Regions from separate parts of the Homo sapiens genome. Here all the other regions are linked to region 3. Evidence: fine-mapped expression QTL. A gene starts in region 3. Each other region holds a variant in brackets. All regions are shown on one strand. Distances are from middle to middle.

Region 1 (4,069 bases), 39 kb before region 3:
GCGGGTGGATCATGAGGCCAGGAGATTGAGACCAGCTTGGCCAACATGGTGAAACCCCGTCTGTATTAAAAATACAAAAATTAGCTGGACATGGTGGCAGGCGCCTATAATCCCAGCTACTTGGGAGGCTGAGGCAGGAGAATCGCTTGAACCTGGGAGGTGGAGGTTGCAGTGAGCCGAGCTGGTGCCATTGCACTCCAGCCTGGGTGACAACAGCAAAATGCTGTCTCAAAAAAAAAAAAAAAAATTGCCCTGAAGAAAATTGCCCTGGAGTCTTTTCTTCCCCATTCTCGATCTCCCTAAGGTTGGAAATTATCTTTTCAGGGCCTGGCATAAGGGCCTTCAGAAAACACGCGGTTGTCCGTTGATTGGAGATGTTTTAAATTTGTACAAAAGGCCAGGCGCGGTGGCTCATGCCTGTAATCCCAGCACTTTGGGAGGCCAAGGCGGGCGGATTGTCTGAGGTCAGGAGTTCGAGACCAGCCTGGCCAACATGGTGAAAACCCCTCTCTACTAAAAATACAAAAATTAGCCACGCATGGTGGCGGGTGCCTGTAATCCCACCTACTTGGGAGGCTGAGGCTCGAGAATTGCTTGAACCCGGGAGGCGGAGGTTGCAGTGAGCCAAGATCCCACCACTGCACTCCAGCCTGGGTGACAGAGCAAGACTTAGTCTCAAAAAAAAAAAAAAAAAAGTAAAAAAATTGCTCAAGTTGGGGATGTCAAGGTTCACATGGGAAATCGTGTCTATTTTTCATTTTAATTATTTGCATTGCAACATTGTAAATTTTGGGGAAAAAGTTTGACAGGTCCTTTCAAAACATTATTTACATGCAGTACCGCGTTTAGTGTTGCACAGTCTGTTGTCTCGTAGTAACCATATTTAGCACATAATGAAGTCGGATAGATTTTAATTGTTCCGTAGCAGTCATCATAAGGATATAACATTTATTGTGTGTTTACCATAAGACAAGCACTATCCTAAGCTTGAAAAAAAATCCACTCATTCAATGCCTCCCAAATCCCAGAAGGCAGCAATTGGTGTGGCATAGAAGTAGAGTTGCAGATTCTGCAAATGGTAGACTCAGTAAGTGCCCACCTAACCAGGAATGCAGTGCAGCAAAGGCTGTTGTGTGGCTTGGGACACGTCAGTTTCCTCACCCATGAAATGAGGGTGTTGGCTGAATTGCCCATCTGTGGAACTAAGCTAGGACTAAAGGGAACCATCTGCAAGAGCTTCATGTAACACAAGTGGTGTCAGTTATGCTGGTTACAAAAGGGCCCCTTTAAAAATACATGTTTGAAGTCGAATGATGAAGAATAATTAAAGTAAAACTAAAAATATATATCACTGTATTCATCCAGCAAGGCTGTTTGTTAGTATTAAGTACTGTCCTTATGTGGGCTTCTGTAATATTTAAACTGCATTTGAAGCCAGGCATTGTGGCACAGGCTTGTAGTTCCAGCTACTCAGGAGGCTGAGTTGGAAGGATCACTTGAGCCCAGGAGTCTGAGGCTACGGTGAGCTATGATCGCACCTCTGCACTCCAGCCTAGGTGACAGACAGATACCCTGTCTCTAAAAAAAAAAAAAAAAAACAGGAAGAAATAGGCCAGGCGCTGTGGCTCACACCTGTAATCCCAGCACTTTGGGAGGCCGAGGTGGGCGGATCACCTGAGGTCAGTAGTTCCAGACCAGCCTGGCCAACATGGTGAAACCCCGTCTCTACTAAAAATACAAAAATTAGCTGGGCATGGTGGTGGGCGCCTGTAATCCCAGCTACTCGGGAGGCTGAGGTGGGAGAATCTCTTGAACCCGGGAGGTGGAGGTTGCAGTGAGCTGATTGTGCCATTACACTCCAGCCTGGGCAATAGAGTGAGACTCC[G/A]CCTCAAAAAAAAATTAAGAAATAAAGAATAAAAATAAAAATAAACTGCATTGGAAACACACACAAAAAGACAGAAATAATAACTTCCCAAAGAAAAGCAACATTCGTCGCCTGACAGGCGATTTTGTTAGAGGTTGGATCTGCTGTGGGGACCTGGGAGTAAGTGGACAGAACACGGTGCTTCTCTTATCAGCAGAGAGTAGATCTTTAGCAGCAGTCACGCGGTGCTGAACACTAGCTTTTAAATTAGCTGCATTTTAAATAATATGGCTTAAAAATACACAACAATAAATCAGGAGATCATTGTAAATCACAGTCTCACATTACCAAGCTTCGTCTCTCCCTGGTGCAATGTATGATTAATCTTTCCGTTGCCAGGAAAGCGATGCTTCCTGTTGGAGAGATTGAGTGTGGATCTGAAAGTTCCCTCACCTTGGGTTCACTTGTTAGCACGGCTCCTGACCCAGCTGTCTGCTGCCTGTCTGAGGACAATGGAAACCTGCTGTCTTTCAGAGTGAAATTCTTATTGACATTCAAAGAGTAAACATCTACCAAGATACATTTGCTTATTTTGTCTTCTTCCTGGTGAGTTGGAAATACCTGGATTTTTGCCATAATAAAGGCATTTCTCAATGACAGACACTGTACCATCACTACATAGCAAGTTTTAACCCCCACACTGAGGAGTAAAATCTCCAGCATCCGCCTCTCTGGGGTTGGCTCTCAGGCAGTGGTAATTATCAGGATTTTATCCTAGAAAACAAGGCAAGTCTAACACACCGTTTCTCAATTAAGTTTCCTGAAAACCAATTTATTCTATTTGAGTAAATTATATATTTGATACTGAAATTACAGAAACATTTTACTGTTTCACTAGCGTACACTCACGGGTGCTTTGCAGAACAGCTGGTTGGGAATACTTATTGTAGAACTTTTCACAGCATTTATTGATCTGTCTGGCAAATGAATCCCTAGACAGGAACTGTCTATGGGTGACATTTTACGACCCCAGTATAGATCCAAAGCTTTTAATGTACCTTTCGCCTTTATCATAATGTCACCAAGAAAATCAGAGTGGGTAGGAATAGCCTTCTGACATCAAACGGCATGTTTAACTATGTTAAGATGGCTCTGACCTACTCAGCCTATACAGCTAAAGATTTTGGAATGGTTCTTTGCCAATCTGGTCCTATGGCCTCTAAAATTAAATAAGCAAGAGATGATCCTCCATCTTGATGATACAGGGCCATGGCTGAGTTCTCAGCAGGCCTCAAAGAGCAACTAAACCTACCGGTCAACCATTGTCAACAGAAACAGCAAAGTATTAGTTATGCCAACCAACATCAAAATAGGTATTCTTGTCAGACCAGTCCTGGCATCTAATTGATCATACAAAGCAACCCTGTTTAAGGGCTGAACTCACGATGTTGGTAATGTCAAGAAGTACTGGCCAGGCGAGGTGGCGCACGCCTGTAATCCAAGCACTTTGGGAGGCTGAGGTAGGAGGATTGCTTGAGGTCAGGTTACTTGGAAGCTACACTTAATGGGTTTATATTTTGGAGGGTACCAGATAGAAAACCAAAAAACTAGTTTGCTTCTCAAGAATTTAAAAACAGGGCTTTTGCTTTTAAAGTTATTAAACCTTCTCATGGATGTTGGAGAGCATTGTGATGGAGAGGCTGTAAACTGCACAAACTGATTGTTGTTTTGTTTTGTTTGAGATGGAGTTTTGCTCTTGTCGTCCAGGCTGGAGTGCATTGGCACGATCTCCACTCACTGCAACCTCCTTCTCCCAGGTTCAAGCGATTCTCCTGCCTCAACCTACCGAGTAGCTGGGATTACAGGCGCCTGCCATCATGCCCGGCTAATTTTTGTATTTTTAGTAGAGATGGGGTTTCACCATGTTGACCAGGCTGGTCTCAAACTCCTCACCTCAGGTGATCTTCCTGCCTTGGCCTTCCAAAGGGCTAGGATTACAGGCATGAGCCACTGCACCCAGCCCGTTTTCTTGTTTTGGAGTACAATTGTTCTGACAGTGGCTGTGGTTCCGCATATCTGTACACGTGTTAGAGTTCATAGAACTGTCATCTAAAAAAGTCATTTTTAACTGTATGATGTTTTACAGATAACACTTTAAAAATGCATTTAGGCTGGGTGCGGTGGCTCACACCTGTAATCCCAGCA
Region 2 (4,069 bases), 86 kb after region 3:
TGTGATGAGTTAAAGGCGTATATGATAAACCTGAAGACAAACCAGAAATAGCCCAACAGAGATATAGTGAATAAGTAAACAAAGGAAATAAACTAGAATCATAAAAAATACTTAATCTGTGGGAACATAGAAGAAGGGAAGCTAACACATGGGGCAAATAGAAAACAAAAAGCAAGTTGATAGATTTAAAGCTAACTATATCAATAATCACTTTAAATGTAATGTTCTAAACACTACAACTAAAAGGCAGAGATTATCAAATTGAATATAAAAGCAAGACTGAAGTATATCTGCTTGCAGGATACCCACTGTAAAGACAAAACTAGGTCAATGGCAGTAGGAGAAAAAAGATACACCATGCTAATTTTAAACAGAGCAAAGTTGGAGTGGCTATATGATTATCAGACAAGGGCAAAGAATATTACCAGTCATAAAGAAGATCATTTCATCATGTTGAAGTGGTTTGTTCACCCAAAGAGCCTAATGATACTTAGCATATATCTGCCTAATGACATATATTAAGTACATGAAGCAAAAACGGAAAGTGTAGTCAGAATCACAATTACATTCAGATATTTCAACACCCTTCTTTCAATAATTGATAGAACATATAGAAGAAAAAATCACGATATAGAAGATTTGAATAATACTATCAACTGACTTGACCTAATTAACATTTATAGAACATCCAAGAATAGAATACATATTCTTTTCCAGTACAATGTGGGCATTTACCAAGAGAGATCACATTCTTTGCCATAAAATAAGTCTCAATACATTTTAGGATTTTAAGTCATACAAGATACACTCTGTAAGGACAATGAAATTAAATAAGTGTCAGAAAACTTACCTAGAAACAATCTAGAAGATCCCTGAGTATTTGGTAATTGATAACATACTTTACAATAACTCACTGGTCAAAGAATAATCAAAAGGGAAATTTGAAAGTGCTTTGAACTGAATGAAATGAAAATAAAACATTTTAATATTTGCGGGATGTGTCTAAAAAGTTTTTAAAGGTCAATGTATAGCACGAAATACCTGTATTACAACAGAAAAAAGGCCTCAAATCAGTTTCTGCAGAGTCAACGAATAGATCCCAAAGAAGGGAAATCTTTCTTTAAAAATCTTGAGAGAGGAAATCAATGAAATAGAAAACAGGAAATCACCAAGAAGAACACTGAAATTGATAAACAATGCCAGAATGATCAGCAAAAAAGAAGAGACCAATTGCCAGTATTAGGAATGAGAGAGGTGACATCACTACATATTGAACAGTGATTAAAAGGATAATAATTGCATATTATGAACACCTTTATCCAACAAATTCAACAACTTAGAGAAATGGACAAATTTCCTTAACAGGCAAAAACTATTAAAGCCTTCTCAAATATTCTGGGAATGTTAGAAACATTCTCACAAATAAAGCTTTAGGCCAGGAGGATTTACTGTCAGTTCTATCATATAGTTAAGGAAGAAATAATAGCAGTTCTGCACAGATTCTTCTAGAAAATTGAAGATGTGGGAACATTTCCTAATTCACTGAGGTCAGCATTACCCTCATACCAAAACCAGGCAGACAATACATGAAAACTGAAAGTTTCATGACAGGCCAGTGTCACGAACATAGATGCTTAAGTTCTAAATACAATTTTAGCGAATCAAATGTAACACTGTATAAAAATGATAATACATCATGACTTTTGCAATGCCAATCCATGTGATTTTATTAACGTGCTAGAAAAAAAAAAGTCATATGGTCGTAACAATACATGCAGAAAAAGCATATGACAAAATTCA[G/A]TATCCATTTCTGGTAAAATCTCTCAGCAAAGTAGGCCTGAAATGGGATGTTCTCATCCTAATAAAATGCATCAGGCTGGGCGTAGTGGCTCACGCCTGTAATCCCAGCACTTTGGGAGGCTGAGGCGGGTGGATCACCTGAGGTCAGGAGTTCGAGACCAGTCTGACCAATGTGGTGAAACCCTGTCCCTACTAAAAATATAAAACTTAACTGGGCATGGTGGTGTGCACCTGTAGTCCCAGCTATTCGGGAGGCTGAGACAGGAGAATTGCTTGAACCTGGGAGGTGGAGGTTGCAGTGAGCTGAGAAATCGCACCACTGCACTCCAGCCTGGGCGACAGAGTGAGACTCCGTCTCAAAAAAAAAAAAAAAAAAAAAAAAAAAAAGCATCTACAAAAAACCTACTGATAACATCATACTTAATGGTGAAAGACTGGATGCTTTCCCCCTGAGATCAGGAACAAGGCAAGGACATCTGTTCTTACCACTTCTATGTAACATCATTCTGGAGGTTTTTTTTAAAAAAAATAAGTCACTGAAGTTGGAAAGGAAACAGTAAAACTATTTCACAGATGATATTTTCTATGCGGAAATTCTGATGGGATCTGTTATAAAAAAGCTATTGGAACCAGTAAGTAAATTCTTCAAGGCTGCAGGATAGAAGATCAATATACAACAATTATATTTCTATATACTGGCAGTTAATAATTGGAAATTGAATTTACAACCCAATATCACTTATATGCAATAGCATCAAAAATACGAAATACTTAGGGATGCGTGAGACCTAAGTACTATAAACTAAGACATTGTTGAGAGAAATTAAAGAGTACCACAATAAGTGGAGACAGATACTGTGTTCATGGATTCGAAGACACTTTATCAGTTTGGGCTGCTATAACAATACCATAGACTGGGTGGCTTACAATACAAAACAAATATTTTTTACAGTTCTGGAGGCTGAAAGTCCCATATCAGGGTGCCACCATGGTTGGGTTCTTGATGAGGACCCTATTCTTGGCTCACGGATGGTTGTCTCCTCGCATCCTTCCATGGCTGAGAGCAGAGACAGAGAAAGCAAACTCTCTTCTGTCTCCTCCTATAGGGGCACCATCCCATCATGAGGATTGCCCTCTTGTGACCTAACTACCCCCAAGGGCTCCTGTCTCTAACGACCATCACACTGAGGATTAGGGTTTCAGTTATGAATTTGGGGGTGGGGACAGAAGCATTCAGTCTGTAACAGCAATATTAAGAGGTCAGCTCTCTTCAAATTGATAGAGATTCAACACCATGCCTGTCAAGATTCCAGCATACTTTGTAGAAATTGACAAGCTGATCTAAAATTCGGATGCAAATTCTATGGACTTAGAATAGCCTAAACAACTTTGAAAGATAACAAAGTTAGAGGATTGACCATCTGACCTAAAGACTCTTTTAAAGCTACAGTAATCAAGACTGTGTGGTGTGGCTGGGCACGGTGGCTTATGCCTGTAATCCCAGCGCTTTGGGAGGCCAAGGCAGGCAGATCACTTGAGGTCAGGAGTTCGAGACAAGCCTGACCAACATGGTGAAACCCTGTGTCTACTAAAAATACAAAAATTAGCCTGGTGTGGTGCATGCACCTGTAATCCCAGCTACTTGGGAGTCTGAGGCAGGAGAATCGCTTGAACCTGGGAGGCGGAGGTTGCAGTGAGCCGAGACGTGCCACTGCACTCCAGCCTGGATGACAGAGCAAGACTTTGTCTCAAAAAAAAAAAAAAAAAAAAGTGCATGATGTTAGCATAAAGATAAACAGATCAAATCAGCAGAATAGACTGTCCAGGATTAGATACATACATATATTGTCAATTGATTTTTGACAAAGGTGCCAAGGGAATTTAGTGGGAAGATGATTTTTTTTTAAACAAATGGTGCTAGAACAATTTTTTAATTATAGGCAAAAAATGAACTTCAGTCCATACCTGGCACCATTCGCAAACTGTAACTCAAGGGATCATCGACTTAAATGTAAATCCTAAAACTATGAAACTTGTAGAAGAAAATGTAGGAGAAAGTCTTTGTAACATTGAACTAGGCCATAATTTTTTAGGTAGGATAGCGAAAGCACAATCCATAAAAGAAAAAAATGGATAAATTGGACTTCTAATAAATTTTGTTCTTTAAAGATACTGTTAAGAGAATAAAGAGAGTCTACAGACTGGGAGAAAATATTGACAAATCACATACCTTATAAAGGAGTTGTATTCAGAGCCCATAAAGAACTTG
Region 3 (4,069 bases):
GGCCATTGTTGAAGTTGACTACCCTGGGTTAAGTGTTACAAGTACCAGTGGTGGGTAAACCTCTAGGGATGATTGCATAAAAGAAAATCAAAAGGTCTAGATGGTTGGAGTATTGCATTAAAAAGATGAGGAATACTACATGCATTCACTTTCTGGAATCTGTGTTTAAATGCCATACACTTTAAAATCTAATCTGCTTGCCCTCTGATTTGGAGAGAATTAACCCAGAAATTATCCAGGTTCTTTAGGGCTCCAAGACATTCTAAAAAATAAAGGTGAACGTTGAATTTAACCAGTTGACAGTTGTTCTTGGATTATGATCAATCAGCCTGTGGCAGCAGGGCACATGCTGAGAACAAGCCTCAGGTTCTCTAAGTTCTCCCACCACCACAATGTTCAGCTATAGTGAACTCATAGAAACCGTGTGTCGGGGCCTCCAACTTCGCCAAGCACCATAAGAAGTTTGAGTTGTGAAAAAATTTTCTCTACTCAAAATTGTGAAGAGAAACGGCAAGGTTTAAATTACCACATATTTGTCTTTGAAGAACTTTACAACAACTTCATTGACTGTTAAATTTAGATTCATAAAAATCTAAACAACGGCCGGGCGCGGTGGCTCAGGCCTGTAATCCCAGCACTTTGGGAGGACGAGGTGGGCGGATCACCTGAGGTCAGGAGTTCAAGAACAGCTTGGCCAACGTGGTGAAACCCCGTCTCTACTAAAAATACAAAAATTAGCTGGGCGTGGTGGCGGGCGCCTGTAATCCCAGCTACTCGGGAGGCTGAGGCAGGAGAATCACTTGAACCCAAGAGGCAGAGGTTGTTGTGAGCAGAGATCGCCATTGCACTCCAGCCTGGGCGACAAGAGTGAAACTCTGTCTCAAAAAAAAAAAAAACAAAAACAAAAACTAAATGACATTTGAAAGCAATTTGTAGATTTTCACACTTCCTAAGAATTCTCAAAGATGCCAAAAACAAAAATCGCAGCCACTAGCAATTTAAATGACTTCCTCGTAGCCAAATAAATCCTAAGGTAAAATTATAAACATTCCCTTAAATTCAAATTTTATAACAAAAAGAAAGATAATAGGGAACGGAGGGTGAATTATTGTGTTTGATATATTTGGCGGTGAAAAATACATATATTACGTGCTGTTTAGGGTCCACTGAGAGTCATAAAACTGACCCTAGTGACCGAGCTACCGGAAGGACTTGGCAAGGGTCTAGCGAGCTCGGTTATCTGCGTTTTCCAGGTGGGGCAGCCCAAGACCCTTCTCAGACCCAGAGAAGCTGGGTTTCCGCCCAAAGCCCGGCCCCAAACCACCGATTTCCGACCTTTCAACCTACTTTGGCAGAGCAAGAGTTTCCGCGGGAGACTCCCTGCTTCCCTCTGCCCAGGTCCCCTGAGGCCGAGTGCGGTACTGAGTGCTGAGTAAGGGGTGCCGAGTGCCAAGCACTGAGTAACTGGGGGAGGGGAACCATGCAGCTGTCATAAATAATTAGCTCCTGTGAGGAACAGGAACTCCGAGACTGCGGCCGGGCCAGGTGGGCAGAGGTCGCAGCGCCCTCGCCGCGTTCCCCGTCCCCATCCGACGCCAGGACAGCGCCTCCTTAACTGGGGTAGCCCCTGAGAGCGTGGGCGGAGCCCCGCCCCGCGACCTCAAGGCCCCGCCCCCTCAGCGCCTCCCGGCCCAGCAGCTCGGAAGACCGCGAGGCGCGCTTTTCTGACGCATCGGCGCCTTTCGTCTGACGTATGCCTGCACCGCCCCCTCCCCTCCCTGCCCCGCCCCCGCCCCGCCCCCGACTGCGCGGCGCCCGCCCTCCCTTAGTCAGAGCTGCTCGTCTGAGGCTGCTGAGGCGACGGCCGGTGTCGTGGTCGCGGTACCTGTTCCAACACGGCTCGCGGGCCCGTGCCGGCTCCGGTCCCCGGCGCGGCTGTCCGAGCCCCTGCGGCGGGCGGACGATGGTGTGGCGGAGCACGCGGACGCGGGCGGCGCGGCGGCGGGCATGAAGGAGGATGGAAGGGCAGGACGAGGTGTCGGCGCGGGAGCAGCACTTCCACAGCCAAGTGCGGGAGTCCACGGTGCGTGGGGACCGAGGCAGCCCTGACAGTCCCGCGTGCCCGCCCGGGCCCTCCGTCCCCGCCCCCGGGCCCCCGGTCCCCGGACCCCTCACCTCCGGGCCTCGCCTCGCGCCTCCCGCCCCGGCCTCTGCCGCTCTCCCTCCCCACCCCTCCTCTCCCCTCCCCTCCCCTTCCCTCCCCACCTCTCCTCTCCCCTCCCCTCCCCTTCGCTTCCTCTGCCTGCCCCCCCGCTCCGCTCTTGCCTCCCCTGCCCCCTCGCGCTCCCTCCGTTCGAGCCCCGACCCCGCCCCCGCCCCGCGGCCTCGGTGCTGCCCTTCCCTTCCCGCGGGGAGGGCTGCGGTGCGCGCCGCGCTCTGGGACCCCAGGGGCTTCCTCTCTGGGCGGGTGTGCGGCTCGCGCCTCGGGGTGTGGACGGCGGCCCCGCCAGTGCGCGCCCCCGCGCTCCGCCGCCAGGCCAGGTAGGCAGGTGGATGCGCAGGCGTCCCGGAGAGCCTGGGTGGGCCCGGCGGGTCCGGGAAGGGCCGGGCTGCGCGGAGCCCGCCCGCCTCTCGCGTTTGGACCCGGCCGGTTACCTTGTCCCGGTCAACACCTCCTGCCCTCCTGGCGCCTCACGTTTCCATCCCTCTTTCATCTCCCCCAGCCCCCACGTGGGTTGAGTTCGAAACCTTACCGTTTGGGATGAGAATATTGGTTATTTTTGGGAGTGAGGACCTCAGCAAAAGTCCATTTTGCTATGGAAGCAACTTCTTAGGGAAGCAGCTTCTTTTTTGGCCCATGTTCCATGTGTGCTGTTGGCAGGAGTCAGGAAGCGGACTTGACCTTGGAAAGTCTACTTTGATGTTTTTATCTTTTCATGATGCTCTAGAATGTATTGTAATTGGGTTTATCTGTGTTTTCATAACTGTTGTAAAATATGTCAATTTTTTATGTTTATATTTACGCCTCTCCTAAGTTGTCTACGATTCAGTCACACTTGGTTTGAGGTGAAAAAATTCTGCTTTAGAATTATCTAATTTGTGTACTCACTGATCTTGAAAATTGAGAATCACTTTGGAAGTCATACTTTGAATAAAGAGGACATATAAAGTCTGAGCTGGTGGAATTTGAGTTAGTGGAATTTGGTACACATTTAGTTGTAATTTTTATAATTGAAGCTAAAATACACAGAGATAAGTTCATGTAATCATACATGTACCCTTCAGATCATTTCATACTAAACACGCCTGTGTACTCCTGAATCCACCAGGAGTTTGAGACTGGTCAGCCTGGGCAACATAGTGAATCCCCATCTCTACCATTATAAAAAAATAAATAAATAAACACAATTTTACTAGGATCCCAGAGACTGATTCCTTTCCCTCTTCCAATTACTTTCTCCTCCACCAAGGGTAAACGTTGCCCTGGCTTCTAATATCATAGATTAGTTTTTGCTTAGTTTTGAACTTTATGTAAATGGAATCTTACCGTATATACTCTTCTGTGTCCAGTTTCTTGTACAATGTTTGTGAAATTTCTCCATGTTGTATGTGGTTATAATTCATTCTCGGTGCAGTAGTTGTGTGACTATAGCACAATTTATTTTTCATTTTACTGTTGATGGGCACTTCAGTAGTTTCTAGGTTTTGGCTATGAATATATATATGTGTATATATATGTGTATGTATATATGTGTGTGTGTGTGTGTGTGTGTGTGTATATATATATATATATATATATTTTTTTTTTTTTTTTTTTTTTGTGATGGAGTCTCGCTCTGTCTCCCAGGCTGGAGTGCAGTGGCACAATCTCGGCTCACTGCAACCTCTGCCTCCGGGATTCAAGTGATTCTCCTACCTCAGCCTCCTGAATAGCTGGGATTACAGGCACACACCACCACACCCAGCTAATTTTTCTATTTTTATTAGAGACGGGGTTTCTCCATGCTGGCCAGGCTGGCCTTGAACTCCTGACCTCAGGTGATCCACCTGCCTTGGCCTCCCAAAGTGC
Region 4 (4,069 bases), 210 kb after region 3:
AGGCACATCCAAAGAGTTCCTAGATACTTGGAAAATGTCTGAAAATTTTTAAGTAAAATACTAAACTTTTCAGTGTTTAGCTCAACTTTTTGTTCATTTGGAAGTTTCTCTCCATCCGAGGACTTAAGCCAGTTTTGGATTTGTAAGCCCTGAGTACAATACACTTCCTGGAGGCATCCTCACTGCTGTTGAAGCAAAGGATATGCATGGGGTGGAAGGACGGCTTCGAACCTGGGACTCATATGCCTTGAGAACAAATAGATTGTTACAGCCTTGGGCTGCTGCGTAATCACGGTTCCTCGAGGCTCTTCCTGAGCACATGCCCAAGCATCTGCCTCTGGAGAGACTGACTCCAAATGCAGGTGCTTCCATTGGAGCTAGGTCGGAGGCTGCTTTATATGACGAACTCCAGAAATGGATGCCAGAATACGGAGGCCAAACGTTCTGAGTCCTGGTAAGGACAGTCGCTCTGGGGGTCCTCATTTTACTGCAGTTCCTGCACGCCAGTGAAAGAGAGGAGATAGACCCTGGAAGGCAGAGCTGCAGATGCTCATCATCAGGTCAATTCTGGAGCTACAGTTTTGTTTCTGACTGGATAGGGATGCACCAGTGACTGTCACATCAAGCAGTCCTTTTATTCTCTCTCCTTTAGTATCGATTTTAAAGGGCATTAGGCACTATGGTTCCAGAGTTTCTTGGGGAAAACTTGCAGATTCTTATTAATTGGTTCTGCAATACTTAAATAAATTATTTTACAATTATAAGTTTTCAGATTATAACATTTGTATTAATTTTTACTGATTTTCCAAGATACTTCTTAGATTTACTATTTACGTAGCTTTATGTACATTCTCTGTAAAAATAGACCTCTAAATATGAGGCTTTACATGAAATTTGTACACACATACACACTAATGTTAGCTCCTTAAATTGCTGCACTAAGGTGCTGGTTAGTAGAGATGGACGGAGCCTCTCGCGTTTTGCTCTCAGATGTGTTAAAGGCGCACGTGTACCTGCTCTCAGCGGCAGTGCGGCCTCCCCATCTGCTGGGTGCCCATGGCCCTCCCTGCAGCCTCAGTGATGACCTCGTCTGCCAGGGACACAGGTTTTCATCATTTACAGGCTCTTATGTGCTAGTTTTGTTGGTAGCACGTTATTTAATGCATAAAGGCAGAATTCTTACAAGTTTTTTTTTTTAATGTGAACATAGATGCAGCACCGACTTTTTAAACTTGAAAAAACTGGTATAATGTTAACTTTTAAAAATAACATTTGGACACACTAGTAATTGATTTTTGTTTACAGATTGTTTTGTTTACAAATTGTTAGTCTTTGTTTCTATGAGATACTTTTAGTGTGACTTTTTAAATGTCTTAGAAATTAAAAGTTGTACAAAAAGTGATTTCATATTTGGTTTATAAGCATTTATATGTGGGGTTTATTTGTTCTTTTGTTTTTTCCATCTTAAATATTATCATGGCTAAAACTTAAGGGTATTTATAGTTTAATTCCATTTCAGTTTTATAGAGGGCAGTAATTATTCTGATGAATGTTGAATTAAGAAATGGATATTTTCTTTCTCTGTTGTGCAGTTATTGGTAGATCAATTTCTTATAACCCACAATGTAGCATCAATAATTGATAGCATGTATTTTATTTAATTACTTGAATTATTTAGACTTGATTTCTCTAATTTTTTCCATAAAAGGACTGAACAGCACCTACTTGTGGTCTGGACAGCTTAACCCAGAGTTCCTGGAAGAATAAATGCTGTTAGCATCTGGTTAATTTACTGGCAGACAGAAGCCTACTTACAGTGGCTTTCAACTTTTTGACCACAGTAAGAAATAACCCATTACACACACACACACACACACACTCTCTCTCTCTCTCTCTCTCTCTCTCTGTCTCTCAGATACGTATAAGCAAAAATTTAACAAGACAGTACTTGTTTTTCCTAAGTGTGCATGCTGGCATCTTCTGTTTTATTATTTTTAAAAATACTAGACACAGACACTAAGTTACTTTGTGGCCTCCTAATAGATGGCAGACTTCAGTTTGAAAAGCATCCCTTTGGAATGTGGTTTAAAAGAAGAAATAATACAAAGACCTTTTTGGAGTTTTTTTTTTTTTTGGTTTTTGAATATTGTTTAGGTAAAAATTATTGCTGCAAACACAACTGAAGCAAAAGTACTGTGTACGCAAATTACTTGTTGCACTGTAGAAAATGTAATATCAGGAGAAGTTCCTAAAACTCACAAATATATACAAAATTTCAAAACTTGGTGATTGATCCATATGTCTTGAAGGAATATTAGGCAATAAACTTACCTTTTCAAGAGAAGTTATTTAACTTCCAATTCTGTGTTCTTTAATTAGGAAAAAATTTTTTCAAGGTTAACTATAATCAAATAGGAACTTCACACAAAACCTCATTATTCTTGGATATGGATTTGGTGTTCTGCTGTTACTTCTAAAGGTG[G/C]TACAGAAGTCAAGTTTATGAGCCTGGATTATGAACAGCAGGGCGGCCCTGATGTGAGTGGTTGTGGAGGACTAGAGTGATGTAGAAGAATCTGTTGTGTCTGAGTGTGAGGAGGTGGAGAGTCACGTGTGGGCTATGGGTCTGAGAACTGAAGTTTTAACAGTTACTAAAACTGTTTTGTGGCTGTTGTAATGTCTTCTCCTTTCCTTTCCTTTGAAAAGCTGTTACTGAATGAACGATGCCGCTTACAAACACTGACACTTCAGAACCAAGCATATTTGATACTGCTGTAGCTATTTATATTGATTCTGCAACTTCTCTTTAACAGCATCTTGAAGTCATCCACAGTTGTTCTATATGGACTCCACAGTAGAGTCAGAGAACTAAGTGACAAGTGGAGCATCGTCCTCCTCCTGCTCACTTCCTCCTCGCCACCTCTCTGGCCTGGCTATCCTTCAGTCTGAAGAGTGATTCACTTTTTCTTTTCTTTTTAGTCTTTACTGTGGAATCTCATCAAAGACTTGGAAGCAGGGGTGGTGAGAGGGGCCTGGGGCGTGGTGTGGAGGGTCGAGTTCTTTGTCGTCCCACAGTCACCCCCAGGACCACCTTGCGAAGCCGAAAATACACATCTGCATTTTACCGACAAGGAACGCCACTGAGAAAGCTGCAGACATTTGCCTGGGGTCACGCTTACAGTGGGCAGATGAACTGGATGTAAATACAGGCCAGTACAACCGCAGTCTCATTTTTTCTTTGTTTTAGGTTTTCAGTTTCTTGTTCATTCATGTACCTTACAGTTCTATTATCTGGTTGATAAAGATTCATGACAGGTATCCTCATTCTAGATTATAACCTTTATTCTTATCAAATGCCTCCAGTCCCACAATTCGCTAAGAATTCTCTTTCTGGACTTGATAGTGATTTAATGATTCCCCCCGCCCATGGAATGGTAGGCTCCTAATTAAGTGGATTTAAAGGCAAAAAGGGATGTGTGAGAAGGCACAAGAAGTGGCTTCATCTTGCAAGGTGACTGTCAGACAAGTGGGTTCCAACCTGTTAAAATAAGGGAGGAATGGCCACATCCCGTAGGGACTGCTGTAGCTGACCAGGAAGACACAATGAGGGCAGCAGACAGGGCTCTCCCTGTCCGCTGAGTCCTCCCATGAACTCATGTTTCCAAAGGCCCCACTCTTTCTTGGTCAGTGTCCCAGTTTTTATAGAAGAGACCTGATGAGGCTGTGGAGTAATTGTATAAAAGCTTGCACTGTTTTCCTGACTTGACCTGACAATGTGGCGTTATCTTCAAATTGTCCAGAGAAGTAGCTACTTCATTCAGGTCCTTTTTAGCGTTCTGTGGTTGCAACTTGGTCTCGCAAGCTTTCGATGGGCGCGCCATTCCATGGCCACTTTTCAGTAAGAAAATTGCCTGATTTTCTGTTAACTGTCACAGGCTGCCCTGGACCATTCCTCAGAACTCATGGGATTTTCGCGACCCTCATCCTCAGTGAAGTTAGATGACCATTCCTGCCTTTCATCCCACCGATTTTCCTAAGTATCTGTTGCCTGCAACTAACACTAGTTCCTGTG
Region 5 (4,069 bases), 65 kb after region 3:
TGAAACTGGGTAGTTGATAAAGAAAGATTTATTTGGCTCGCAGTTCTGCAGATGTACAAGCATGACACTGCCATCTGCTTGGCTTCTGGTGAGGCCGCAGGAAGCGTTTACTCATGGTGCAAGGTGAAGGGAGATCAGGATTGAAGAGAAGGTGCCAGGTTCCTTTAAACAACCAGCTCTCTTGTGAACTAACAGAATGAGAACTCACTCATTACTGTAGGGTCTGTCTGCTCCTACGATCCAGTACCTCCCATGAGGCCCCACCTCCAACACTGGGGGATCACATTTCAGCATGATATTTGGAGGGGACAGATATCCAAACCATATCACTGTTAGGAATAACACTGAAAATCCTAAGGAAATTGAACGCTCAAACAAAGAATTCTTAGTAAAGCAATTTTACTTCTGCGCAGAGGGGTGTCTCCTTGGCCAGTCGCCATGAGAGCACACCTGAATAAAGGGGCACGAGAGCCTTTATTCCTGACGCAAGTCCTGCCCCTGTATGCTTTCCCCGTTGGCTGGGGTCGGATTGTACAATCTAATCCCAGTTGGCTAAACGTTTGATTTTTTTTAGATAAGGTAGGCACGTAAAAGCGGAGAGGAAAGGGAAAGGGGCGTCTAATGAGCTAGAAAGTTCTCTTTCCAAATAAGGAATGTGAGCTGGTACTGATAACGCCTGGTACTGTGGTGTGCCTGGGCATCTAACAAAGGCAAAAAGGAAAAAGGAGGAAAAGGGAAAATTTGGGTGGGGCACCATGAATTAAAGAGTAAAAGATTGATCAGATTATTCGAAGAGAAACCTCATCATATCCCACATCACTGATGATGGGGGTTAAGAACAGGAGATGAGAGACTCATAAATCAAGGATCCTGGTCCTTGTTTGCTAACTGAAAGTATGTGAAAGCTTTGTGGAGTGTTAAAGTGATTTAAGGTGGTTTTATTGTTTTAATTATCATCACCTTGCAAAGACACTTTACAATATGATCTGTAGATATGGCTTTTTTTTACACTAGTTATATTCAGTGACTAGTTATATTCAGCATCTGAGTGTATGCCCTCATCACCTTATTTTATTTAGACAAAGGTTCTGTCTTCCTGGTTGGATTGAGGACCTAGTCACAAATGTCAGATATTTGGGGAAACACTTGTCTTACTACCACAATTAGAAAAGATGCATTACTCTGAAGATGTAATTTTTAAAAATAATGCTCCATTTCAGAAGGTGAAGTTGAGGAATGCTTCACAGGGCAAATGATGTTTAGGGTCTGTCTTGAAATTCATGTATGAGTTTGCCATGCAACTTAGAGGGTATTCTAGGGAGTGAGTAGACTGTGCAGAGGGGCAAGAAGGAACCCTGAAAATCCATTTCATGTTTGGGCTATGAGGGGGTTAGGTAAGTCTAAGTGTATGTCGAAATGGGTCATAGTGAGAGAAGAGCCTGGAAAATTATCTTGGGATAGCCGTGTGGGACCTGGAATGGTGAGATTTTGGATTTGATCTCAATTTTAGCATAGGAAGGAATGATAGCAATCAGGATAGCTTCCTCCCATGACTGGAGAAGCTTGCTGGAGACCGCTTGCTGGCTGGTCGCTGCCAGAGCTGGCTGCGGACCTGAGACAGCACTTGTCTGAGGGCTTTTCCCAGGAAATGCGGTGTCTATTGAGCAAAATGAATTCACAGAAATTCTGTATCTGATATCAGTTGTATTTTTCTTAAGTATCATATGGTCTGTATTTTAAAATTTATAATTGATTTACTAAACCAAGGAGGTTTCCTGGTTATTTTTGGCTTTTGAAGTAGGAATACACTTCTGTTGGTTGCCACAAGATGGCATTGGCCTCAAAGTTTCTCTGTTAGATGTGTTTTTGGGTATTTAGTATTTTTTTTTCCTGCTTTTAAAAAATATTTTCTTATATTTATTTTTACTTTCTTCCAATATTAACTTTAATAGAACTTTAATATCCATTCTATCTCTAATATTAGTGAAGTTCTTTTTTCCTTTGCCAATTTATCCTTTTAAAATCTTTTAAAAAGTTAGGTGTTTCTTGTAGAAAATAAAAATGTTTCAGAAATGTGTAACTGAGAAGGTGAAAGCACCTTATAATCCCTCTTTCCTATGGGATTGTTACATGTTATGCTGGATTTTTTTGTACCTCTGTATAAATA[T/C]GCATTTGGTGGGGGGAGAACATGTTTTACATTTATTGTCCATGCTTTTCTTCATTATTTTGTTGACTTATTTTAGATATTCTTCCATATTAGTACCTATTAAAGCTATCTTTTTTATGACAAAGTAGTGTTTTAAATATTAATAGTACAATACTGTTTAATAGTTTTCTGTTTTTTATTACTATAATTTATTTAATCTTTACCCATTAAAAAGATGTCAGGCCAATGGCTTTCTAAGTTTTTTTTCCTCTGAAATAAACATTTTAAATTAATTTGTTTTTTTATACTGCTTTCATAGTAATTTTTTCACCTCAGTTGTTGCATTGCTGTTAGCATATGTTGTCAAAGTTGTTAATTAAATGCAATTGTGAAATAAATACTTACATTTAAAAGAGGAATGAACTACAATTTTTTCTTTGTAAAATATGTGAAGTACTGTGTCTTCAGTATGTCTTTATCTTTTAGGTACTATTTGTTAGACTTACTGACCTTTTCATAGAGTAAGGAGTTTTAGAGTTTATCTAGTTTAACTTCTAGGCCCATATGTATATCATTTGTCTCCCAACTACATATATTTAATAAAGTTCTTAATATAATGCTTTTTTGATTAAAACATTAAAGAGTTTGCATTCTTTTTGATGACTTTCGTGTTCATTGCTTTTTCAGATCACTTGTGATGGTGACTCTCCTTTCTTCCAGGTTGTTTTTGAGCACGTTCACTCTCGCAGTGTCAGCTGGGGCTGTTTTGCTTTTACCCTTCTCAATCATCAGCAATGAAATCCTGCTTTCTTTTCCTCAGAACTACTATATTCAGTGGCTAAATGGCTCCCTGATTCATGGTTAGTATATATTGCTTAATATAATCACAATTAATATTTTAATTTTTTACTGCACCATATTTTTAGATTTTTCTTTTCTCAGTTTTCTTCATAATTTGTGACTTCCTCCAGTAAACGATTTGGGTCTTTAATAATGTCAGAAAACCAGATTTTACTTATCATTTCTATGTTTAATTAGTTGTGAAAGACTTTTCTCTTAGTTAAGAAGCAGTGTTTATACTTATGATTTTGATAAATACATTTTCATTTCAGTATTTAGCTAGAGTATTTTGGTTTATCTGACTATGTCAGAAGAACTCAACCTCCATTTAAGAACTAGAAAACTGGCCGGGCGTGGTGGCTCATGCTTGTAATCCCAGCACTTTGAGAGGTCGAGGTGGGTGGATCACCTGAGGTCAGGAGTTCGAGACCAGCCTGGCCAACATGGAGAAACCCTGTCTCTACTAAAAATATAAAAATTAGCCAGGCATGGTGGCACGCGCTTATAATCCCAGCTACTTGGGAGGCTGAGGCAGGAGAATCACTTGAACCTGGGAGGTGGAGATTGCAGTGAGCCGTGATCGCACCATTGCCCTCTGGCCTGGGCAAGAAGAGTGAAACTCCATCTCAAAAGAACTAAAAAACAGCAGCTATAGTTTCTATTTTATTTATTTGCTAGTAGTTTCTTTAGTCATTTCAAAATATAGAAGGGGAAAAACACTCTATGTCAAGTACAAATAGATATCATGGTGTATTGCTTTGTAGTCTTTGGGAAAGCCACTGTCCTCTCACCGCGGCTTCCTGTTGTCTTAGTTGGGATGATAAATAAAACCCAGCTTGTTTTTGCAATAGGAATGATGTATGTAAAGTAATTGTCTTTTAGTAGGCACTTAATAGGTGGTAGCTATTATGATAGTTATTTAGGCTGTGAGGTGTTTTCTTTCTGAAGAATCTTACTGTTTTTACAAATCAATTTAGTGTATGTAAACTGAACTCTTGTCTCTCATAGAACATGCTGGCATAATTCTTTTTTGAGTTCTAATTTATTTTTATTTTTTAATGTTTTAATTTTAATTTTTGTGAG
Region 6 (4,069 bases), 180 kb after region 3:
CAGATCACGAGGTCGGGAGATCGAGAGCATCCTGGCTGACATGGTGAAACCCCGTCTCTACTAAAAAATACACAAAATTAGCCGGGCATGGTGGCGGGCGCCTGTAGTCCCAGCTACTCAGGAGATTGAGGCAGGAGAATGGCGTGAACCCGGGAGGTGGAGCTTGCAGTGAGCCAAGATCGCGCCACTGCACTCCAGCCTGGGTGACAGAGTGAGACTCCATCTCAAAAAAAAAAAAAAAAAAAAAAAAAATCAACCTTCTGAATTCTTTAACTGGCAATTCAGAGATTTCTTCTTGGTTTGGATCCATTGCTAGGGAGCTAGTGTGATCTTCTGGGAGTGTTATAGAACCCGGTTTTTTATATTGCCAGAATTACTTTTCTGGTTCCTTTTCATTTGGGTAGACTAGTTCATTGGGAAGGTCTGGAACCCAAGGCCTGCTGTTCAGATTCTTTTGTTCCACTGGGTGATCCCTTGATACAGTGTTCTCCCCCTTCACCTAGGGATGGGGCTTCCTGAGAGCCAGCCTGCAGTGATTGTTATTGTTCTTCTGGGCTTAACCACCCAGCAGGGCTACCAGGCTCTGGGATGGTGCGGGGGAATGCCTGCAAAGAGTCTTGTGATGTGGTCTGTCTTCGGGTCTCCCAGCTGTGGATACCAGCATCTGCTTTGGTGGAGTTGGCAGGGGAGTGATGGAGACTCTGTGAGAGTTCCTGGTTGTAGGTATGTTTAGTATGCTGGCTTTCTCAAATGCTGGTTATGCCAGGAGTGAAAGTGTCATGTGGACAGACTCAGGACCTCTGGTTAGCCAGGATGTTGCAGGCAGTGGAATTAGCTTTTGTTTTCTCCTTCCTGGGAGCAGGGTTATTCTGTCATGAGTTGCTGTAATGGCCTGATGTGGTTGGCCAGTTGGTTGGCCTCACTTTCAAGAGAGTTCCAGCTGCCATAGTAGTAGAGGTATCTAAGCTTGCCCCAAGTTGGCCAAGGTAAGTATTCTGGTTTCTCAGGTGATGGGTGGGGCCATAAAGCTCCCTAGACTTTATGTCTTTTGTGTTCAGCTGCCAGGGTAGGTAGAGAAATACCATCAGCTGGGGGCAAGGTCAGGTGGGTCTGGGTTCTGATTCTCCCTGGGCAGGGCTTGCTGCAGCCACCGTGGTTGTTGGGGGGTGGTTCTCAGGCCAATGGGGTTTTGTTCCAGAGGGGATCTTGGCCACCTGTGCTGTGTTATATAGTTTGCCAGGGAAGTTGGGGAGAGCCAGTAGTGAAAGGCCTCATCCAGCTCCCACACAGTTGGCAAGGCTGGTCTCTCTTCTGCAGTCCCTGCCGCAGACCTTGTCCCAGGCCGTAAGCTTCCCCGCTGAGAAAGCAAGCATGGCTTTCAGGCTTTGCCCTTCCCCATCTGCCCACACTGTCCGTGGTGGCTTCTGTGCTCTTATCTGCAGCAGTTCCCATTTGCACCCTGCCCCCCTACCAGATTCTGCTCAAGAAAATTTGCTCAAGAAATTCTGCTCAAGAAAATTTGTGCCCAAAGTTATTACAAATTTCAGTTGGAAGCTTCTTTCATCCTGTAACCCCACCCTAATTCCACTGGCTGCCTTCCCCAAGGTCCCCTGTGAGATATAGTCAGGGATGGCTTCCCTGGGCTTGAGCTGGAGACTGGGAGAGCCTACAGGGCTCTTCCTGCCACTGATGCTGCTTTTATTTTTTGTGTGGCTCCCTGAATCTATTTCAACTCTAAGTAAGGTTAAATCCTTTTCCCATTATCTGGATTTTCAGCTACCACAGTGAGGATGTGTGTTCAGAGGAAGGTTTTCCCCACCTCACACACTGGGAACTCAGTTTTTTGCCTGTGTCTCATGGAATTTGCAATGATATGCTGCTTCTTTCAAAGGATTCGTGAATTCTTTGTTTTCCTGGTACATCCTACAATGGTTCTTGGAGCAAAAGTTGATGGTGTGAGTCTCCGCGCACTGTTCTGTCCTTCCAAGTGGGAACTGCACATTAGTCCTGCCTCCTGTCTGCCGTCTTCCTCCAATTTTTTTTTTCTGGCTATTGTAAATGGGATTGCCTTCTTGATTTCCTTCTCAGCTAGATAGTAGTTTTTTTTTTTTTTT[A/TA]TATAGAAATGCAACTGGTTTTTGTACATTGATTTTGTATTCTGAAACTTTACTGAATTTATCAAATCCAAGAGCTTTTTTGTGGGGGGATCCATTAGGTTTTTCTAGAGATAAGATCATATCATGAACGAACAGGGATAACTTAACCTCCTCTTTACCAATTTGGGTGCCTTTTGTTTCTTTCTCTTGCCTGATTGTTCTGGCTAGAACTGTCAGTACTCTGTTGAATAGGAGTGGTGAAAATTGACATCCTTGTCTTTTTCCAGTTCTTATGATTTTTGGCTGTGGTACTGTTGTATATGATCTTTATTATTTTGAAGTATGCTCTTTGCATGCTTAATCTGTGGAGGGCTTTCGTCATGAAGGGATGCTGAAGTTATCACATGCTTTTTCTGCATCTTTGGAGATGATCATGTGGTTTTTGCCCTTAATTCTGTCAGTGTGATATATCACATTTACTGACTGTGTATGTTGAACCATCCTTACACTCCTGGTATAAAACCTGCCTGATCATGGTGTATTATCTTTTTGATGTGCTGTTGGATTCAGTTTGCTAATATTTCATTGAGAGTTTTTGCATCTGTGTTTATCAGGGATATTGGTCTGTAGTGTACTTGTCTGTTTGGGTATCAGAGTGATTTGGGCCTCATAGAATGACTTAGGAAGAATTCCCTCCGCCTCAGTTTTTGGGAACAGTTTCAGGAGGATTGGTATTAGTTCTTCTTTGTACATTTGGTAGAATTCAGCTGTGAATCCATCTGGTCCTGGGCTTTTCTTTGTTGAGAGATTTTTTTAATGGATTCAATCTTGCTACTCATCATTGGCCTGCTCGGGTTTTTTATTTCTTCCCGGTTCAATCTTGAGAGGTTGTATGTTTCTAGCCAGTAATTTATCCATTTCCTCTAGGTTTTCTATTTTGTGAATGTATAGTTGTTTATAATATTCTCTGATGATCTTTTGTATTTCTGTGGTATCGGTTGTAATGTTTACTTTTTCATTTCTGATTTTCTTTGTGTTGTCTCTTTTTTTTCCCTTGTTACTCTAGCAATTGGTTTATCAGTTTTATTTATTTTCTCGAAGAACCAACTTTTCATTTTCCTGATCCTTTGTACTGTTTTTTGGTTTTTATTTTATTGTTTTTTTTTTGGTTCTGCTCTGATCTTTGTTATTTCTTTTCTTCTACTGATTTTGGATTTGGTTTGTTACTTTTGTAGTTCCTTGAGGTATGACATTAGGTTGTTAATTTGTATCTTTCAGTATCTTTCATGTAGTCACTTGATGTCATAAACTTCCCTCCTAGCACTGTTTTTGCTGTATCTCGCAAGTTTCAGTATGTTGTGTTTCCATTTTCATTTGTTTCAAAAATTTTTTTTTTAATTTCTGACTTAATTTATTCTTTGACCCAATGGTCATTCAGAGGCATGTTGTTAATTTCTGTGTACTTGTATGTTTTCTGAAATTCTTCTTGGTATTGATTTCGTGATATTGATGCATGAAAATTTTTGATTTTTAAAAATTTGTTGAGACTTGTTTTGTGTTTTAACATATGGTTTATCTTGGAGAACGTTTTATGTGCTGATGAGTAGAACATAAATTCTGCAGTTGAGCAGAATATTCTGTAAATGTGTTTTAGGTCCGTTGCACCAAGTACAGTGTTTCTTTGCTGATTTTTTTTCTCGATAAGCTATGAATAGGGTGTTGAAGTCCACCACCATTATTTCATTGCTGTCTGCCTCTTTCTTTAGCTGTAGTAATATTTGTTTTATGAATCTTGGTGCTGTTGGCTGCATGTATATTTGGATGTATTGTTATATCCTCTTGCTGAATAGGTCCCTTTATCATTATATAATGACCTTTGTTGTCTTTTTTTTTTTTTAACTGTTTTTGATTTAAAGTCTGTTTTATCTGGTGTCAGTATAACTACTCCTGGTCTTGTTTGTTTTTTTGTTTGTGTG
Region 7 (4,069 bases), 110 kb after region 3:
AGCTTTTTCGTGTATGCTCTTAATGATTACTTGGGAGCAAAGGGAGAAATGTTTGACACTCTCTAGAGATGCTTATTTGTAGTTTTTTCATGGCTTAAAATAAAATAATTAATACCTGCTTTTATTTTCTGTTCTTTATTAGTACTTCTACCGATCTTCCCCTGATGACTGTGTATATGTTTGGTGCAATCTTGATGCCATGCTGAGCAAACCTTATTTTAATGTTACTGAGAGACCCTTTTTGTTAAGTGAAAACAATAGCTTGATATTTATTTTAAATGTTCTGTGAATGTAGAAGTTTTCCCAGGCTTCCTAATGGGTAGAGACATAGTGTATGAAGTGGTTTTTACATCCCTTACAGGAGGGCAAGATGTCCAGGCAAAACCTTGTTTAAATGTTCATCACCATAGAAACATGACAGCTTCTCCATAGAGCTTTTGTAAGTACATTGTAATTTTCACTTCATTGATGTGAATTAAATGTATAATTGACCAGCACAAAAATTCCAAGAAGCAATTATATCATAACCATTTGAGTGTAGTAGACTATCCATTTAGTTCCCATTTAAATCTAAAAGAAATCTGTGTGTCTACAAGTGTTTAGTCTTTACTAATCTATTTCATCGAATTTAACCTTTTATAATATTGAGGTTGTTGTAATTTCAAAAAATGCTGGTATGAAATAACGTGATTAATTCTATAGCTTACTCAAAACAACTCATGTTTCATTGGCAGAAAAGTACTTAATTTCAGTGGTGTTTCTAATATACTGACTGCTTATTATACTGCAATTTTAATCAGAAGGAAGGAGTTTCGCTAAAGTAATTTAAACTTAACGGGTTTTTTTGTGGGGGATGGCAGGATAAGTGTTCATACTGGGAAATAAAAATATTGTGAAGTTCATGAAATCCTGGTGATATATGACATAATCTAAGCATTCAAAACTAGGTGAAGGAAGTACAGTTATTGATTAATAAATAGAAGTTCTTATAGTCCTGTGATCTTGTATTCAGGAGACTTTTTTCACTAGAGGAACAATGAAGACCTTCTTCCTTGTTTACAGTGTTTTGCCACTTTGTTGTTTGAAGCGCATTTTAATAAGTTATTCTGACATCTGGTACATCTTTTAGCTCAGTATATGCAAGAATGGAGTTGATAGGAAGCTTCCCCTCGGGGCTTTCTAGCTCCTGATTCTGACCCTTAATGGAAAAATGAGCAGTCGGCATATTTTTTGCTTATATGCTGTGCTGCTGGTGATTAATGGTGGTGATAAAAGTGCTCACAATGCTTTTCATTACTTTGTAGTCAGAATGGCATCCAAAAGTCTAACAATCTCACACATGGCATGCCATAAAGGCTGTGTTCTTGAAGCTTGGTAATATTTTTATGATCTCAAGAAAGATAGTGATAACAGCTTATAGATTTTGAGTACTTGTATATTTACTAGTGGAAGCTGAATTAACAAATGAAATTTCTGACTATAGTCTCATCATCTCTCTTCTCTCTAGCTCAAAGTTTTTGAAGGTAAAAAATTTGCCACCTTGCATTTAATGAACATATTTATCTTTTTAAAAGGTTTATGTAAAGCTCACGCATGTGGTATTTAATTGATTTTAAGTTGGACAGGTTTTGTCTCATTTAATCACAGAAAGAAAATAAAATTAACAAAAGGGAAAACTTAACTATCCTAGCCTCCCAGTGGATTAAGTCAGAATAACAGCTCTTTCTTACTATATCAGTTATCTTAATATTTCATAGGACAAGCATAATCATATTAAATAATTTTGATGGCTTGTACCGTGGCAGCCTTTTCTATTAGTATTGTTGATTTACTCTTGTAATGTAGATCGATAACTAGAAATGAGCAGATTTCTTTTTGTGAGTTATTTACTGACTTTCAAAAGAAATATTGACTAATTTGAAATAACTTTTTGAACAATTTATATGATTGACTAC[A/G]GAGAGTTCTTTTGGCTAAATGTTTCTGAATGGACTGCTTAAACATGTGAGTATGTATTTCAGACAGTTCTTGTTATTATTTGTGTACCTATAATAGAAAAATCATCGTCTTGGATGGGTATGGTGGCAGTAGGAAAAGAAGGGATGAATTTGAGTTGTAATTACACAGTAGAATCAGAAGCACTTGGTGTTTGACTGGACCGAGGCTCAGGGTGTATGGTGGGGGTAGGGTATGGGGTTCAGCAGGAAAGGTAGGTGACAAGGGTGTTTCCAAAGTATCTGGCATAAACAACAAAGTGGGTAATGATGTCATGTTTTCAGGTATGTGATATTGAAGGAGGAGCAGAGATAGAGAATAAAATGATGAGTTTGGTCTTAGAATTAAGTTTAAGGTACTGGTGAGATGTCTAATGAAAGACGGCAGTTGGTGTATATGGTTCTTGGCCACAGCAGTAAGATTTGGACTAAAGATATAAACTTCAGAGTTGTTGGCTATTGGAAGAGGCAAGATCACTTAGGTAAAAACTGAGCAGTATATCTGTGAACCGTCTTCATCAGAATCAACTGAGTCACCACTTTGTGGTTGATGCTCAGGAACTGGCAGGCCCCTTGGTAATTATGATGCAGGTTGACATTTGAGAAGCACTGATATGACATGTGAGAAGATGAACATCTGAGATTGGGCCACAGGAGAAAAGGGATTCAAGGTATTTTCTTTTATAGAACGAAAGAATTAGAAATGGAAACAGTAGCTAAGGTGTAGAGGAGGGAAGGTGAGGGACTCACAGACCCCACTCAGCTGTGTCCTACTGAGGTAGAGGAAAGTCAATTGTAGTTGGAAGGAAGTAGAGGATGAGATTATAGATAAAAAAGAAAGGAAAACATTTTAAAAAATGTTGTGAAAGGCCAGGCGTGGTGACTGATGCCTGTAATCCCAGCACTTTGGGAGGCTGAGGTGGGCAGATCATGAGGTCAGGAGATCGAGACCATCCTGGTTAACACCGTGAAACCCCATCTCTACTAAAAATACAGAGATAATATTAGCTGGGCGTGGTGGCTGGCGCCTGTAGTCCCAACTACTCAGGAGGCTGAGGCGGGAGAGTGGCGTGAACCCAGGAAGCGGAGCTTGCGGTGAGCCGAGATCGTGCCACTGCGCTCCAGCCTGGGCGACAGGCGAGATTCCATCTCAAAACCAAAAAAAAAAAAAAAAGTTGTGAAAATTGCTAAAGTCAGCCAGAGATCAGTATAAAGATTGCCAAGTAGCATTGAAGGCCCACTTTGGAATGTCGTAGTAAAACTTTCTCATGATTGTATAATACAAAGTTTTTTTGACAGGGCTGGGAATCAAGGAGTAGGCGCCAGGGGATTGTTGAAGCTGGCCTGGTGGAAGCCAAAGGTTCAGGGAGCTCCAGAATATTGTTGATACTGGCTCATCATCAAAATTCACTAGTGAACCATGGGGTTGAGGCCAGGGAAGAGAAGACTGGTTGGAAGGATTAGGAGGGAACAAGGGAGTGAAGGTTCTGAGGATGTGGAGGCAGAGCTAGGCTAGGGCACTGAGGGGACAAGAAAAGACAGGAAATTGTGGACTAAGAGGGCAGTTTCAAAGTTGGAGTTCTTAGAGGTGATCCTGAGAGATGGTGGAATAGGATCAATGCATGTGTGGGTGGCTACTGTAGAATGGGAATGAATCTCACTGGAATTGAGGTGATGAGCTAGGATGTTACTTACGAGGGCAGGGGATGTGATAAGAAGTACTTGTGAACCAGGTGCTCATATCATGGAGAAAGATGGGACTGCTTCTTATAGGTTTGTAGATGGTCGGGAACAAAGTTGGGAAGAGAGTGATAGGATGGCATTAGAAGGTGGCATACATTTAATTTAGAAACACAAATGATATGTGAACTCCCAAGCCTTGGAAATTTCAGAGACAAAGGTAATAGTTTGAGTCATTATAGTGAACCATTACATTGTGTTTACTAAGAACCAGATATTGTCCTAAGCATATATATATATAAAATATATATAATTTACATATATAAAAATGTATAAAATATGTATAATTTACATATATAATATATATAACTCATATATATATAATACTCATTCGATCT

Alleles and levels. Positions count from the first base shown, and alleles are read on the strand shown. Sizes are in standard deviations (SD) of each study's normalised expression. Not every link is listed here.
For the expression in pancreas of the gene that starts at base 1,828 in region 3, A is the low allele of the variant in region 2 and G is the other (moderate effect, 0.53 SD a copy in GTEx).
As copies of TA replace A in region 6, the expression in monocytes after Pam3CSK4 of the gene that starts at base 1,828 in region 3 goes down (moderate effect, 0.75 SD a copy in Quach 2016).

The links. PIP is the estimated chance that this variant, and not a neighbour inherited with it, causes the effect.
Region 1: its variant is the best candidate, but not a certain one, in a credible set for the expression of LMBR1 in lung (TOPMed, PIP 0.82).
Region 2: its variant is the best candidate, but not a certain one, in a credible set for the expression of LMBR1 in pancreas (GTEx, PIP 0.85).
Region 4: its variant is the best candidate, but not a certain one, in a credible set for the expression of LMBR1 in whole blood (TOPMed, PIP 0.68).
Region 5: its variant is the best candidate, but not a certain one, in a credible set for the expression of LMBR1 in whole blood (INTERVAL, PIP 0.75).
Region 6: its variant is the best candidate, but not a certain one, in a credible set for the expression of LMBR1 in monocytes after Pam3CSK4 (Quach 2016, PIP 0.75).
Region 7: its variant is the best candidate, but not a certain one, in a credible set for the expression of LMBR1 in whole blood (INTERVAL, PIP 0.86).

What each region holds. Positions count from the first base shown.
Region 1 is chr7:156,930,366-156,934,434 of GRCh38, reverse strand. No RefSeq gene overlaps it. Among named protein-coding and RNA genes, the nearest start is that of NOM1, 17 kb to the left of the region's middle. The variant G/A (reference allele first, on the strand shown) is at 1,886.
Region 2 is chr7:156,804,717-156,808,785 of GRCh38, reverse strand. All of the region lies in intron 4 of LMBR1 (limb development membrane protein 1), which reads left to right. Among named protein-coding and RNA genes, the nearest start is that of LMBR1, 86 kb to the left of the region's middle. The variant G/A (reference allele first, on the strand shown) is at 1,801.
Region 3 is chr7:156,890,942-156,895,010 of GRCh38, reverse strand. It overlaps LMBR1 (limb development membrane protein 1), which reads left to right and starts at 1,828. Exons shown (of 17, transcript NM_022458.4): 1 at 1,828-2,083. The coding sequence starts at 2,018. LOC102723795 (a long non-coding RNA gene) reads right to left here and starts at 1,613. Exons shown (of 4, transcript XR_928253.3): 1 at 1,348-1,613. RefSeq lists silencers at 1,607-2,186, 2,237-2,736.
Region 4 is chr7:156,678,214-156,682,282 of GRCh38, reverse strand. LMBR1 (limb development membrane protein 1) reads left to right here. Exons shown (of 17, transcript NM_022458.4): 17 at 1-4,069. Among named protein-coding and RNA genes, the nearest start is that of RNF32-AS1, 20 kb to the right of the region's middle. The variant G/C (reference allele first, on the strand shown) is at 2,483.
Region 5 is chr7:156,825,542-156,829,610 of GRCh38, reverse strand. LMBR1 (limb development membrane protein 1) reads left to right here. Exons shown (of 17, transcript NM_022458.4): 4 at 2,867-3,006. Among named protein-coding and RNA genes, the nearest start is that of LMBR1, 66 kb to the left of the region's middle. The variant T/C (reference allele first, on the strand shown) is at 2,168.
Region 6 is chr7:156,706,080-156,710,148 of GRCh38, reverse strand. All of the region lies in intron 15 of LMBR1 (limb development membrane protein 1), which reads left to right. Among named protein-coding and RNA genes, the nearest start is that of RNF32-AS1, 48 kb to the right of the region's middle. The variant A/TA (reference allele first, on the strand shown) is at 2,115.
Region 7 is chr7:156,776,025-156,780,093 of GRCh38, reverse strand. All of the region lies in intron 5 of LMBR1 (limb development membrane protein 1), which reads left to right. Among named protein-coding and RNA genes, the nearest start is that of LMBR1, 120 kb to the left of the region's middle. The variant A/G (reference allele first, on the strand shown) is at 1,956.